2 linked regions of the Homo sapiens genome follow. The protein of the gene in region 1 interacts with the protein of each later gene in a pairwise test. Each region holds a gene or a part of one and is shown on either strand. Other genes may lie near its edges.

Evidence for each region. Proteins that work in one complex are often made in the same cells at the same time.
Region 2: the proteins of ZG16 (region 1) and KCNIP3 interact in binary tests that used the Homo sapiens proteins (3 or more experiments, as listed by UniProt).

Annotation. Positions count from the first base shown.
Region 1 is NC_000016.10:29,773,040-29,781,255, forward strand, and holds the start of ZG16 (zymogen granule membrane protein 16 precursor), read left to right. Parts: upstream 1-5,216; 5' UTR 5,217-5,267; intron 5,268-6,220; 5' UTR 6,221-6,227; coding exon 6,228-6,282; intron 6,283-6,465; coding exon 6,466-6,598; intron 6,599-7,064; coding exon 7,065-7,380; 3' UTR 7,381-8,216. UniProt on the Homo sapiens protein: May play a role in protein trafficking. May act as a linker molecule between the submembranous matrix on the luminal side of zymogen granule membrane (ZGM) and aggregated secretory proteins during granule formation in the TGN.
Region 2 is NC_000002.12:95,377,347-95,384,924, reverse strand, and holds part of KCNIP3 (calsenilin), read right to left. Parts: intron 3,330-7,578; coding exon 3,222-3,329; intron 2,549-3,221; coding exon 2,444-2,548; intron 1,694-2,443; coding exon 1,631-1,693; intron 924-1,630; coding exon 876-923; 3' UTR 1-875. UniProt on the Homo sapiens protein: Calcium-dependent transcriptional repressor that binds to the DRE element of genes including PDYN and FOS. Affinity for DNA is reduced upon binding to calcium and enhanced by binding to magnesium. Seems to be involved in nociception.

The DNA of each region.
Region 1 (8,216 bases):
CTATGCCCAGCTAATTTTTTTTTTTTTTTTGAGACGGAGTCTCGCTCTGTGGCCCAGGCTGGACTGCAATGGTGTGATCTCTGCTCACTGCAGCCTCTGCCTCCCGGGTTCAAGCGATTCTTCTGCCTCAGCCTCCCGAGTAGCTGGGATTACAGGCACCCGCTACCGTGCCCAGCTAATTTTTTTGTGTGTGTTTTTAGTAGAGATGGGGTTTCACCATTAGCCAGGATGGCCTTGATCTCCTGACCTCATGATCCGCCCGCCTCGGCCTCCCAAAGTGCTGGGATTACAGGCGTGAGCCACTGCGCCCGGCTATTTTTTTGAAACGGAGTTCTGCTTTTGTTGCCCAGGCTGGAGTGCAATGGTGCAATCTCGGCTCACTGCAACCTCCACTTCCCTGGTTCAAGCGATTCTCCTGCCTCAGCCTCCCAAGTAGCTGGGATTACATGCATGTGCCACAACACCTGGCTGATTTTTGTATTTTTTAGTAGAGACGGGGTTTCACCATGTTGGTCAGGCTGATCTCAAACTCCTGACCTCAAGTGATCCATCCGCCTCGGGCTCCCAAAGTGCTGGGATTACAGGTGTGTGAGCCACTGCACCTGGCCCCATTCATTTCCCCACAAAATCACATACTACCTCTCAACATTGCTGCACCCCCATTTCCCCTCCCCTGTGAAGAAGGCAGCTACATAAGCATCTGGACCACGTTGGGTTATTAGGTCATCGTTCTCCTGTGGTTTCCTTATGCTTGTACATGTGACATAAATTTTGTACACATTTTTCTCCTATTAATTTGCCAATTGTCAGTTCCTTTTTGGGGAGCCTTTATAGGGCTAGAGAGCAGAAAGGAAGCTTTCCCTTGGCCCTACAGCTCCTTGAGGTCGGCTGTTGACTCTTTTCTTCATTGCTGTCTCTTCAGCGTCTAGAATGGTACCTCCAATGTAGAGATGCTTGATAAACGTGTTGAGCCGGGCACAGTGGCTCACGCCTGTAATCCTAGCACTTTGGGAGGCTGAGGGTGGATCAAGAGGTCAGAGTTAGAAACAAGTCTGGCCAACATGGTGAAACCCTGTCTCTACTAAAAATACAAAAATTAGCAAGGCGTGGTGGTGGATGTCTGTAATCCCAGCTACTTGGGAGGCTGAGGCAGGAGAATCGCCTGAACCCGGGAGGTGGAAGTTGCAGTGAGCCAAGAAAGGGCAGCAGAGCAAGACCCCATCTTGAAAAAAAAAAAAAAAACAAGCAAACAAAAAACAAAAACAAACAAAAAAACATGTGTTGAGTTGCTTTCTGTTTAGTAGCAGAAAGCTCTGGAAGGGCTTTGGACATTCACGCGTGCAGGCCCGGGAACGGGATGAGGTTTAAGGCAACTTCATCTAGAGTTTAAAAGGGGCAGGTAGGCCCACAGCTGGCACGTGGGTTAAATGTAAAGTGGCTCAAACAGGATCTGATAAGGCAGAAGCAGAGATGGGGGCCTGGTGTCTCACTGCCTTCACGTTCTTCCTTCTGCCTCAGTCCCCACATGAGAGTGCACCCTAGAGGTGCCAGCATTAGCGATAGGGCAGCTTTCCTTGTTTCTGGGATGGACAGAAAATGGGCCTTGAGACCCCTCCCATCATAGGAAAGCATCTCTTGCACTCTGGAGACTGAGGACTTGCTATAGTGGAACAAGAAGCAGTCTTCGGCAATGGAGGAGATGCTGGATCTCCATACAGGCAGGGTGGGTGCAACGGAGTGGAGCTGTGGCAAATGTGGGTGCCTCTGTCCTGAGGGTCCTGGATGTGTCATGCCTGGGAACATGAGGGCGTTCTTCCAAGGTGCCCATCTCGACCTCTCTGAGCTGCCATCTTTGACTTCCTGTGTTTGGTCACAGACTAGGGGTGGTCTGTCCCTAAACAGAAGAAGACAAGCAAGGATTAGAGAGGAGAAAGAGCTAGAGAGAGAGCTTGGGAGAGATGTAGGGACAAGGAAAGAAGAGGCAGAAGGAAAAAGGCATGGAGGGAAGGAATATAAAAAAAAACCCCTTAGGCCAGGCATGGTGGCTCACGCCTGTAATTCCCGCACTTTGGGAGGCCAAGGTGGGTGGATCACCTGAGGTCATTTCAAGACCAGCCTGGCCAACATGGTGAAACCCCATCTTTACTAAAAATACAAAAATTAGCCAGGCATGGTGGTGGGTGCCTGTAATTCTAGCTACTCCGGAGGCTGAAGCAGGAGAATCGCTTGAACCCTGGAGGCAGAGGTTGCAGTAAGCTGAGATCAGGCCACTGCACTCCAGCCTGGGTGACAGAGCGAGAATCTATCTCAAAAAAAAAAAGAAAAAAGAAAAAAAGGCCGGGTGTGGTGGCTCACGCCTATAATCCTAGCACTTTGGGGGGCTGAGGAAGGTGGATCACAAGGTCAGGAGATTGAGACCATCCTGGCCAACATGGTGAAACCCCATCTCTAGTAAAATAGAAAAAATTATCTGGGTGTGGTGGTGCGCACCTGTAGTCCCAGCTACTCAGGAGGCTGAGGCAGGGGAATTGCTTGAACCCTGGAGGCAGAGGTTGAAGTGAGTCGAGATCGCGCCACTGCACTCCAGCCTGGCAACAGAGCAAGACTCCATCTAAAAAAAAAGAAAGAAAGAAAGAAAGAAAAATCCTCCCCAGAGCAGGGAAAGATGAAGACATAAAGGGAAGGAGAGTCACCAGGAAAGAGAGAGGGAGAGAGACACAAAACAAAATGGCTGGAATGAGGTGAAAGTTATAGTAGCAGGATGTGCTGACACTGACCTTGGAGAAAAAGAGAGGGGAAGGGAGGAGTGAACGTGGAATCTTTGGCTGCTGTTCTGTTTCACTCCCAGAACTCACCACCCTGGATTCCCCCCATTTCCAGATCCTCAGGCGGGACTGCCTTTGCTATCTGGGATGAGTCATTGGCCCCAGATGGTAAACCTGTGAGGGGTGGGGTGCTCTGAATGCCTGACTAGTCATTTATAATTGAGAGCACTTATTCCAGCCCCTTCTGGTCCTCCATCCTTCCCTCTTCTTGGACCTCCTGATTCAGAGAGGTCAGAGGGCCAGTCCAGGAGGGGTCAGGCACTAGGTCCCTGGAGTCAGTCTTAGGGATTTTAGGCAGAGAGGAATCAGTCCTGAAAATGAAGGGCATACAGAGAAAAAAAAAACTATGACATCACCCCTGGGGGTGTTACAGACCTAAGAAAGAAGCAATGGCCCTGGGCGGCCTACAGCCCCAGGAAGATTCAGCCATGGTACCCAGGAGACTTGAGGGCCCAAAGCCCAGAATTACCCCCAGAGGAACACCTGTAGACCTTCGGATCCTTAGCTTTGCACTTCCCATTGGACTGACTCTGTTTCCTGTGGGGCAATAGGCACGTGTTCACTGTGCACCTGCAGCCCCAGTCATCCTTCTCAGAGAGAAATGGTTTGGGAAGTGTTTGGCATATTGGGGATAAATAGATGAGTGGATAGAAAAAAAAATGCAGGCCAGGCACAGTGGCTCACGCCTGTAATCCCAGCACTTTGGGAGGCCGAGGTGGGCGGATCACGAGGTCAAGAGATCGAGACCATCCTGGCAAACATGGCGAAACCCTGTCTCTACTAAAATTACAAAAATTAGCTGGGCGTGGTGGCGCATGCCTGTAATCCCAGCTACTCGGGAGGCTGAGGCAGGAGAATCGCTTGAACCTGGGAAGCAGAGATTATAGTGAGCCGAGATCGCGCCACTGCCCTCCAGCCTGAGGGATAGAGCAAGACTGTGTCTCCAAAAAGAAGAAAGAAAAAAAAGCAATTACAGCAAAATATTAACCATAGTAGAATCTATACAGTGGTTATATAAGTGTCCACTATACAATTCTTTTTTTTTTTTTCCTTTTTTTGAGACTTGATGTTTCGATCATGGCTCACTGCAACTTTGACCTCCTCAGCTCAAGTGATCCTCTTGCCTCAGCCTCCTGACTAGCTGGGATCACAGGTGTGCACCACCATGCCTGGCTAATTGTTTTATTTTTTGTAGAGACGAGATCTCCCTATGTTGCCCATGTTGGTCCTGAACTCCTGAGCTTAAGCAGTCCTCCTGCTTTGACCTCTCAAAGTGCCGGGATTACAGGCATGAGCCACTGCACCCAGTCTTGCTATACGATTCTTTTGTTTTTTTTTTTTTTTTTTTTGAGATGGAGTCTCACTCTGTCGCCCAGGCTAGAGTGCAGTGGAGTGATCTCAGCTCACTGCAACCTCTGCCCCTCAGGTTCAAGTGATTCTCCTGCCTCAGTCTCCTGACTAGCTGGGATCACAGGCACCTGCCATCACACCCAGCTACTTTTTGTATTTTTAGTACAGATGGGGTTTCGCCATGTTGGCCAAGCTGGTCTCAAACTCCTGACCTCAGGTGATCCAGCTGCCTCAGCTTCCCAAAGTGTTGGATTATGGGTGTGAGCCACTGGGCCCAGCCACTGTACAATTCTTTAAACTTTTATATGTGTTTGGATTTTTCATAATATTAGAAAAGGGAAAGAAAAAAATGTCTGGCAAATAGTCAGCACTCGTAAGTATAAGATTTTGGGAATATATTCCCTTCTGGGAGAATCCACATTTCGAATGCCTGGGAAGGGCTCTGTTTGTCCTGACAGATGGCAGATTTCAGGTGAGAGCACCTACTAAGCCTAGAGGTGATAAGCTACTTTGCCCACCTAGAGCTGCTGGTGGTGACCTTAAGTTTACTATGTTTCTCCTGGTATACGGCACTTGGCCCAGAGTGGACTCCAGCTTGCCACCTGTCACCCAGGCTGGAGTGCAGTGGCGTGATCTTGTCTCACTGCAGCCTCAACGTCCTGGGCTCAGGCGATCTTCCCTACCTCCCTCCTGATTAGTTGAGGCTACAGGTGCTCGTCACCATGCCCGGCTAATTTTTGTTTTTGTTTTTTGTTTTGGTAGAGATGGGGTCTCACACTCTTGCCCAGGCTGAGCTAGAACTCCTGGCCTCAAGCGATCTGCCTCTGCCTCCCAAAGCATTGTAATGACAGGTGTGAGTCACCATGCCCAGCCAGGAACTCAGAGAATCTTACCCTATGCTGTAGTATCTGTTGACTATGGGGTAGAGGCAGGATAAGGTGTTCCAGACCCTGCCTGACACCTGATCCGAAGAGGTTGCTCATGTTTGCTCAGGAGGTGAGGTTCACACAATAAAGGGCAGGAGGAGGGCTTGGACCTGGTATAAAACATCTGGAAGTTTCCAGGGGGCTGCTTTGCATCTGAAACTGTCAGGTGAGGGGTGACAGAGATGCCTGAATCTGAGTTGGGGGGGAATTCAAATCTGAGCTGGCGAAGAGGATGCCTGGAAGGAATGGCAGGAAAGACTTGAGTTAATTGGCGCTTCTGGGTCTGCAGTAATCTTAGGTGCAAAGCTGTCTAGGTCTCTGCTGAAGGACTGGGGACACCTGGGATGTTCAGGAGAATAGAAATGGCCAGATGTGTGTTAGTGGAGAAAAGAATAGTGACACATAGACCAGGCACCTGGGGTCTAATATCTTGAGCTGGTCCCGACTCCTTCTGCAACTTCTCTGTCTGTCCTAGTTCCACCAGCACTGCTTGGATACTGGTGCTGGCACAGTTCCTTCTGTCACCAACTTTGCTCCCCAGGTAACATAGAGGCAACTCTAAAATGCTTCTTTCCTTGAGACCAGGTGGATGCCAGGGATTTAAACCATGCTCCAGGTGCCCCATAATCCAGGCCAATTCACCACAGATGATGAGGCTTTCTTTGCTCAGCCTCTGGGCTCAGTAAACTCAGCCATCTCTTTGCTTGGGAGAGGTCCTCTACTCCCTCCTTAGAAAACTCGTTTCCTGGCTATGGCCATACCAACCCAAATGTACCTGGGCTTGGCTGACTTCAGAAAACTTTTCTGCTTTGTGCCAGGATGGAATAAGGCTTAATCCAGATAGTTAGAGTTCATCTTCAGGCCTGAGAGAAAAAGAGGAGGGCTTGGCTACAGCCAGACCAGGGAGAGCTGGAGGGGTCAGGGACATTGAAGGTAGCATCAGAGAGGAACAGGACTACAGGCTATGGACAGTCCTTTCTAAGCTCAAGACTGGGTCTGCTAGGTCTAAGTTGAAGGACGAAGAAGGCTTGGTCTGAGCTGCAGGTCAGGAGTGCCTGGGTCAATCAAGTCAACAAGGAAGAAGGTGAATCTTCATTTGCTCTTTTCTTCCCACTCCAGCCCCAGAATGTTGACAGTCGCTCTCCTAGCCCTTCTCTGTGCCTCAGCCTCTGGCAATGCCAGTAAGTGAGATACCAGGAGCCTGGTATTGGGGACTTGGGAAGGCAGCCTTGGGCACTGCTGTTGGCCAAGGCTTTTGGAGGTTGGCTTGGGGTGGGGAGCTGAGTTGTCGGAGGAACAGGGGTGATGCAGAGAAACTGAACTCCTGGAAGATTTCTCCCTCCAACTCCTGCTTGCCCCTCCAGTTCAGGCCAGGTCTTCCTCCTATAGTGGAGAGTATGGAGGTGGTGGTGGAAAGCGATTCTCTCATTCTGGCAACCAGTTGGACGGCCCCATCACCGCCCTCCGGGTCCGAGTCAACACATACTACATCGTAGGGTAAGATTCTTTGAATTCCTGGCTGGGCGCGGTGGCTCACATCTGTCATTACAATGCTTTGGGAGGCAGAGGCAGATCGCTTGAGGCCAGGAGTTCTAGCTCAGCCTGGGCAAGATGCCAGGGATGCCAGGGATTTAAACCATGCTCCAGGTACCAAGACCCCATCTCTACCGAAGAAAAACAAAAAAATTAGCCAGGCATGGTGGTGAGTACCTGTAGCCTCAACTACTCAGGAGGGAGAGGCGGGAGGATTGCCTGAGCCCAGGATGTTGAGGCTGCAGTGAGCCAAGATCATGCCACTGCACTCCAGCCTGGGTGACAGAGTCTCTTTGTTGGCAAAATGAGTTGAAGTTCCCTGTAGGATCTTCCAGGGTTCACCCAGGCTTCACAGTCTGTAGGACTAGCCAGAGACCTCTCATCCCTATCATCACCTTTCTTTCTCCTTCCTTCCTCCCCTCTTCCTCAGTCTTCAGGTGCGCTATGGCAAGGTGTGGAGCGACTATGTGGGTGGTCGCAACGGAGACCTGGAGGAGATCTTTCTGCACCCTGGGGAATCAGTGATCCAGGTTTCTGGGAAGTACAAGTGGTACCTGAAGAAGCTGGTATTTGTGACAGACAAGGGCCGCTATCTGTCTTTTGGGAAAGACAGTGGCACAAGTTTCAATGCCGTCCCCTTGCACCCCAACACCGTGCTCCGCTTCATCAGTGGCCGGTCTGGTTCTCTCATCGATGCCATTGGCCTGCACTGGGATGTTTACCCCAGTAGCTGCAGCAGATGCTGAGCCTCCTCTCCTTGGCAGGGGCACTGTGATGAGGAGTAAGAACTCCCTTATCACTAACCCCCATCCAAATGGCTCAATAAAAAAAATATGGTTAAGGCTAGTCTGTGTGGGGGCATCTGTGGCTGGGATATCTGCCTCCTGACTTAGCCGGGGACGTGCAAATCTCACTTCTGGCTGGCTTTGGACATCTGTCTGGAAGATGGGAAGATGAGGGAGAGGTATGTAAGAATCCTGGGCTTTGTGCTATAATTTATCAAGAGGAGATGAGATTCTGGCTTGCATCAACGCTCTTCAAGGACAGCTCCTTGGAACATTGATCCAAACTGGAGTCATGGGTCTGAGGGCAAGGCCTAGTTGTGGCTTACACCAAAACCCCAGATGTCCCACTCTCCAGCTCTCCTCACCCCTGGTCCTCCCCTTGAGAAAGTGGTGAACTCACTTGCTGTGTGTGGGTGGCCAGGACCATTAGCCTTTGTTCTTTCCCAGAACCCACCTGACTCCTGAAACTTAGCTGAAGTCTGTGCCCGAGGACCCTGCCCTGTTACCAGGCCCAGTTCCTCCTCACCTCTACCCATGAGCCCCGGTGTCCTGCTAAGCCCTCTCAGATCTGGGATTCCTCCTTCCTCAGGAAGCCACCACCTTCTCAGCAGTGGAAACCCTGCCCACACTATGCTCTTAGGCTTTAGCCATCAGAAGGTTACAGTGGACTGCGGGAGGCTGACACTAGGCTGAACTCATTAAGGAATGAATGGGAGGTGAGAAGACACAGGCAGCAAGAATCGAGTGTTTCAAGAAGTTTGGCTGTGGTTTGCCAGAAATAGGCAAGTCAGTTTTCG
Region 2 (7,578 bases), on another chromosome or scaffold:
CTTGGAGGGAACAGTCTGTGCTGGAGGGTGTGTACAGCCCCACCCACTGCATTCCCACTGAACCAGGACTGGGGCAAGGAGAGGCTCATCCCACCCTGTGGAGCTGGCAGAGAGTGCCCTCAGATTCTCCACCACGACCCAATCCCTAAACTTGAAATCCCCCGCCTTCCTGCCATGGAGGGAGAATGGGGCCCAGTGGCCCCTCACCACTCAGGCTTGCCCCACAGTGGGTGGCCTGGTACCCAGCTCTTCCAGGTCAGTGGAGTAGCAGGGGATCCTGGGACCCCCAGGGAAGAATTTCCAGAAAGCTGCAGGCTTGGCCTCCATTACCCCCTCTCCCCCCTGCCCCCCAGCTGGTCCCTCTGGGGTCCTGAGGTGAGGGGCTTTCTAGAAGCATAGGTAGTGGGCAGAGAGTGGCTACGGGGAGGAGACCAGGGGAGCCTGGGGCCGGCCCACTGTGTGGCAAGAAAGCAGAATGGAGAACGGGACGAGGTGGGCTCACACCGGAGATTGGACCCTCCCCTGCAGGGGCACTCGAGCCCCTTCTTGGTGACATCCAGCAGCTGGTGGCCTGCAGACCTGCTCTGTCAGCCACTCACCCAGAGGCAGCCTCGCCTCGCTGGCCTGGGAAGGGCTGGCTGGGGCTCCTGGACTCGGCCCCTAGCCAGACTCAGCCCCTCCCTGAACTCTGTCCCCTCTGCCAGCCCAGATGAATGGCTGTGTGTGTGTGTGTGTGTGTGTGTGTGTGTGTGTGTAGCAATCTGTTCACTTTTTGCAAATCTATTTTTTAAAAGTTTCTTGGAGGCTGCTCCTGGCAGGATGGAGGTTTCTTGGGGGTGGAGGTGGCTGTGGCCATGCACTCCTTTGGACGTGTCCTAGATGACATTCTCAAACAGCTGCATGGAGCTCATGATGTTCTCATCCTGCATGGAGAGAGGAAGGGAGGCCTTCAGGTGCTGGGTGGGCTCCAAATCCGACCCCCTTGAGCAGATTCCCGCCAGGGACTCGGAGCCTGCAGCGACTGCCTGTCTGTCTGTCTTATTGGGTGCAGGGAGCTGGGGGACAGGGAGGTGAAGTAGCTGGTCCGAGGTCCCCAGCTGGTGAGGCACAGCCTGTCTTCAACCCCACTCCTGACTGCAAGCCCATCTGGGATGAGCTGATGAAGGCGATCCCGGCTGGCCTCCAGAGGAGGTGGGCGCTAACCAGGACTGCTCTGGGAGTGGGGCAATAGAGGCGCTGGAGGCCCAGCATCCTGCCCCCTGAGGTGCTCTCTGGAAGGGCCAGCAGCAACACTGCGGAAGCTCTGGTGCCTCCCCACGGTGACCCTCTCCCTCTGGCTGGCCCCATGTCTGCCCCTAACTTGAGGTTCTCCAGGGACTGGGCTGAGGGAGGGTGTGGGGGTAGTGGGGGGATGCTGTGGGCTGCAGGGGTGGGTGGGGAGGAGGAGACTCAGACAAGAGGGCAAGTGGAGCTTGGGGCTGTCCAGGAGGTGGCAAGGGGCCAAGGACAGCTGCCACATCCTGGACTGGCAGGGGTGGGACTGGGGTGAGGGAAGGGGCAGACGCTGCCAACCACCCACCTCCGTGTAGAGCCTGCAGAGAACTGTGGCCCAGCCTCCCGTGCCACCTACCTTCTGACAGGCCTCCAGGAACTCTTCAATGGTCACTACCCCATCCTGGTTCCGGTCCATTTTCTGCAACCCAAGCCATGCCCAAAGTGAGTCTGTGCCCCAGCAGAGACAGCCCCGCCCCTGGCCTGAGGACGCAGAAGTCATGGGTGGGTGGATGGGCGGGTGGGTGGATGGGCGGGTGGGCTCCCTCCACTCTAACTTGTCCCCTGTGACTACTCTGGATCCAGGCCACATAATCCACCCTTCATAGCCACCTCCCAACCAACTGCTGAGGCTCCAAGCATCTCCCCACTGCTCCCCTAGGCCAATTCCCTGAGCCCTCCTGGGCTTGGGTTTCCCAGAATTTGTCCCCATGCTCATCTGACCGCCTCACCTCCCTGAGAGGCAGCCAGGGCAGAGGGAGCAACTGAGTCACAGGATGGCCCATGTCTAGTGGCCCCAGCAAGTAGGAGGCAAAGCCTGCAGCCCCTGCAGCCGCCATGCATACAGGTGAAGGCCCCCAACCTGCTCCTCTCCCAGAGCGTCTTCCTGGAGGAGCCACACAGCTCTCAGGAGGCATGGAGCTCCGGCCCAGGGTCAGCTGCCTCAGGATCCCCAGCTCTGGCCCCCAGATGAGGTCCACAGGGCAGAGCAGTGGTGTAGTTCACTTCTCAGGGGTTCTGACAACCAGCCAGACTGGAGGGGCAAGTTTAACCTCCTCATGGGGAGTAGGGAGGCTCAGAGGGGCAAGCCACTTGCCCGGGGTGGCCCCAAAAGCGAGAGCCCCTTCCTCTGCCAGGCTCCCCTCCCTAGGCAGGGCTGGCGCTCGCTCACCTCGAAGAACCTCTCCACGTGCTCCGCCGGCGCGTCCTCCCGCAGGATGGGGTAGGTGTGGCGGCCCATCATGTCATAGATGGACTTCATGATGGCCAGCATCTCCTGGAGGGGGAGGCTGGCATGAGCCTGCTGCAAGGCCGGGGTGGCTGTGAGGGCCCAAAGGGAGCGGGCGGCATCCAAGGGTGCAGGGCACCTCCAAGGCAGTGAGTGCGAGGGGCCGGACGAGCTGGAGAGAGAAGCCTGTCCGCTTCCAGGGCACCCAGAGCGAGCTTCTGACTCTAGGGGAAGCTCATCTCCCAGAGAAGTGGGAGATGGATTGCTATGTGCTTATCTCCAAAATGTGACGCGGCAGCAGAAAAAGTGCTTGGACCAAACAAAACCTGTCTGTGGGCCCATGTGCGAGGGCTCCCCTCTCCACCCATGCCTTAAGGGACCGCACTGCCCCCTTCACTTGATGGGGGCCAAGGCCAGGACCTCTGGCTTCTCCACTTAAATCTCCCCGAGGCCTTTTGTGTAAGACAGTATGACCGAGAACACTTGCTGAGCTGGACCGAGATGTGTGGTACAGGGTACCTGAACCCACACTCCACACCGGGGTGTCCAGGACCGAGCCCAGGAGAGGAGAGCCCACTGGCTGCTGTCCCTGGGGCCAGTCTCTGGATGGACAGCGGGAGAAGACAGGTGGGCAGCAGGAGCAGGGAGAGGAAGAGCGGCGGGAGGGGTGGAGCAGCAGGAGGGGAGGAGGGGACAATCCCTGCCCCCAGCCCCCTACTACCTCTTTGGTGATGTAGCCATCCTTGTTAATGTCGTAGAGATTAAAGGCCCACTTGAGCTTCTCGTGGACTGTGCCCCGCAGCAGGATGGAGAGGCCAACCACAAAGTCCTATGGGGAAAGGAGAGTGTGGGGCGTGACATCCAATCAATGCCCAGGTTCTAGTTCCAGTTGCTGTGTGGCTTCCACTGAAATTCACGCCTCCAACAGGCACAGAGCCTCCCTAAGAGACTGACGGCATCCATTCAGGTCAGCACAGGGTGAGTGTGTGCCCGTGTGTGAGCGCATGCACGGGTGTGCACCTGTGTGTGTGAACTTGTGTGAGGGTGTGCACCTGTGTGAGAACTTGTGTGAGGGTGTGCACCTGTGTGAGGGTGTGCATCTGTATGTGTGAACCTGTGAGGGTGTGCACCTGTGTGTGCACCTGTGTGAGTGTGTGAACCTGTGTGAGTGCATGCGCATGTGTCTGCATGTGTGGCAGGAGTGGCATGGTAGCTGATACTGATGCCAGAGAAAGATATTCAAATATATATGGTGTCCTAGACCCATTTAATGCAGTGCTGCCGCTGGAGACGCCTGGGGTACTCTTTTAATAAAGGAGGTGCTCTATGTTTATTCTGCCAAGCATCTGCATGGCAAAGGTGCTTGAAAACTTCCAGATTAAATAGCTAGAGGAATGATGCTCAGCTTTTTGTTTGTTGTTGTTTTTAGAGACAGAGTCTCAGACTGTCACCAGTCGCCATCATGGCTCACTGCAGTCCCAAACTCCCAGGCTCAAGCGATCCTCCACCTCAGCCTCCTGAGTAGCTGGGACCACTCGGAATAATCCATGCCTGGCTAATTTATTTTATACTTATAGAGATGGGGTCTCGCTATGTTGTCCAGGCTGGTCTCCAACTCCTGGCCCCAAGTAATCCTCCTACCTTGGGCTTCAGAAGTGCTGGGATTACAGGTGTAATCCCAGGGCCACCTCGCCCAAACCTGGTGCTCAACTCTTGAGTCATGACATGCTGTGTGTGGCCATCGCCTTTGGCATGGGAAACTTTACTACTAATATGACAGAATATGGCTGTTTAAATGGTTTCCATGTGACAACTTCAACTGTTTTGTTACAGCAGTTGGTAGAAAGCAGGTTTTCCCCCTACCTCTTGGAAGGTTTAAAGGTGAAACCCTCCCTGCACCCTGGGGTCCTCCCAGGCTACTCTGAAAGAAAGGGGTGAGAAAGGGGCTGTACCAGCGAAGTGGGACAGAGGACGGTCAGAGTGCAAGGGACAGGGCCATGCACCAAGGCCCCGAGGCCCCTCAAGTGTTAGATTTTCGGGACTGGAAGAAGTCTGTACCATGAGAGAGACAGAGACAGAGGAAAGCGATTTGGAAGAACAAAAATTATCCCAGGAGAAAAAAATTTGACAACAACTATTAGGTTCAGAGATTACAAATCTTCCATCACTAAAATAAGAATAGGATGTCCCAAAAAAGAGGTAACTGGAAAAAAGAAAGAGCTCTTGGAAATTAAAAATAAGAAAGCAAAATGACAGACTTAAAAAGAAAGGTTGGGAGAGCAAATGGAATCTTCCATGAAGTGGAATGAGAAGGCAAATAGCTGGAATATAGGGGAGAACAGAGGATAATGAGAGTTGCACTCCAGAGGGGCCAATGCTGGGACACAGGCAGTTCGGGAAGAACGGGAGAAAACAGAGGAAAGTGGGTAGGAGCAATCAGGAAAGACGATTTCCCAGAATGGAAGCAGAGATTTCCAGTGTCCACCAAGGCTTGGCACAATGCATGAAAACAGCCTGCAGTTTAGCTGCAAGCATAGATCATGGTGAAATTTCAGCAAATTGGGTGCAGAGGATCCTATAAACTTTCAGAGAGGAAAGCAAAGCCAAACAGAAAAAGCAAAATCGGGACCCATCACGGGTCAGTGTCAGCAGGGGCACCTGCTCTGCAGCAGCGCCTGAGGCAGGAGGCCCAGGGAACGAAGCGACCCCCAACTTTGAAGGAGAACAGCTCCCCCTGGGGGTGCTGGTCCCTACAATGGATCAAGCAAGAGTAAAAACAGAATAAAGACACTCCCAGGTGCTCAAACGCTCCAAAGTTACAGCTCACATCCTCTTTTATAGGAAGCAGCTGGGCAGTAAGCCCCTGAACACACAGAGAGTAAAGCAAGAGAAAGGCAGATCAGGGATCCCAGAACCAGAAGGCCCAGCCCAGCAGACAGGGGAGGAAGCCCCAGAGGCACCAGGCCCCAGCGAGGATGGAGCTGTGGGAGGCTGGTGGGGGGGCCTCCTCTGGCAGATGCCGGGCAACAGGTTCAGATGACTGGAGAAGGGCCTGGGCTTGAATGAATAATGAGGTCACAGAACACAGACAAACTAATCATCAGGACCAATGTTAACCGTAGGCAAAGGAAAGGAAAAGATCATCGCAATGGACAACAAGCCTCAGCGAGGGGTCCAGTTCACAAATCAGAGTAAACCAAGGCCTTATCCAACCTGAAGCCTAGAGTCTGTTGGAAAGCTGAACTCCTGGGCTCAAGCGATCCTCCCACCTCAGCCTCCTGGGGGATGGGTGGGGGGCTGGGGGGACGGGAACGTTGTATGTCTGAGGGAGTCCCAAATTCTCACTTGTGGCAGGGGGTGGAAAAGTGGAAGCAAGCTTCTGGGGGACATGGAAACAAGCACAGGTGACTGGCTACAGCAGACAAGGTGGTGGTCACCTGCTGGTTTTCCAACGTGCACCCTGCGAATGTGTTGGACTCCAGTCATGTGTGTGTATAACTGAAGACAATGAATATATATATATATATGTGTGTGTGTGTATATATATGTGTGTGTGTGTATATATGTGTATATATATGTGTATATAAATATGTGTGTATATATGTGTGTGTGTGTGTATATATATATATGTGTGTGTGTGTGTGTATATATATATATATTTTGTTTTTGTTTTTGAGATTGAGTCTCACTCTGTCACCCAGGCTGGATGGAGTACAGTGGTGCAATCTCAGCTCACTGCAACCTCTGACTCCTGGGCTCAAAGTGATTCACTTGCCTCAGCCTCCCAAGCAGCTGGAATTATAGGCACCCGCCACCATGCCCAGCTAATTTTTTTTTTTTTTTTGTATTTTTAGTAGAGACGGGGTTTCGCTATGTTGGCCAGGCTTGTCTCAAACTCCTGACCTCAGGTGATCTGACCGCCTTGGCCTCTCAAAGTGCTGGGATTGCAGGCGTGAGCCACCGAGCCCGGCCAATGAAAATATTTTAAAGAAGCAACACCCAGGTGTGGTGGCTCACACCTGCAATTCCAGCACTTTGGGAGGCTGAGACAGGAGAATTGCTTGAGGCCAGGATTTCAAGACTAGCCTGGACAACATAGTGAGACCTTGCATCTACAACAATTAAAATAAAAAAATTAGCTGGGCATGGTGGCATGCACCCGCAGTCCCAGGTACTCGGGAGGCTGGGGTAGGAGGATCACTTGAGGCCAGGAGGTCGAGGCTGCAATGAGCTATGGTGGTGCCACTGCACTCCAGCCTGTCTAAAAATAAAACAAAAAAAATAAAAATTAAAAAACAAGGAGAAACATTGTTATATTTCTACTATGCCCAAGTTTAGGGAATAATAATCACTGAAGCTTGGGCATGGTTTACACAGTAGTGAAGATTCTAAGTTATCCCTGAAGCCCTGGGTCAGACAGGCCTTCCTAGTGGGTAGCAAAGGCGTGGAGCACACCGTTCTCCTGGGGACCCTGGGCAGGCACCGCTGTCCTCCACCTTATCTTCAGCTGACATGGGCCCCTCAGGTGGTCTGTCTGTCTGCTGCGGAGAAGCCCTCATGTTCAGCCACAGAGCCTGCTGCTAGCAGCTGAGGAATGTCCCTATGCAGTATCCCTTAGCCTCTCTCTGTGTGTTGGCTACAGTAGTGACAGTACTAGGAGATGGTGGGAATGTCCTGTTAGGCCACTGGCTAGTCTCCATTCATAAAGGTAATACACAGATGACCCCAAGTCCAGCCAGCCCATGTCTGAGTGCACGCTGGTTCTAAATTCCTTGGCCATACACAGTGCAACCATGGCAAGTTGTAACTCCATGCTCTGAATGCCAAAGTGTAGGAACCCTGTCACATCCACAGCCTCTGTTCTACGGCTGTCCCCATGGCAGGGGCTAGGCAGGGTGAGGGCTCCAGTGACACAGCATACTTCCAGGTGAAGGTGCACAAGAGTGCACAGGAGGGTCTCCCGGCAGAGCCCGGAGCAGGTGCTCAGCGAGGGGGTGGGAGTCGCATGTGGTTGCTGGGCTTGCAGGCTGCCCTCACACGGCCCTGGATGCCGCTTGGCCACTGGCACATGGAGCAGT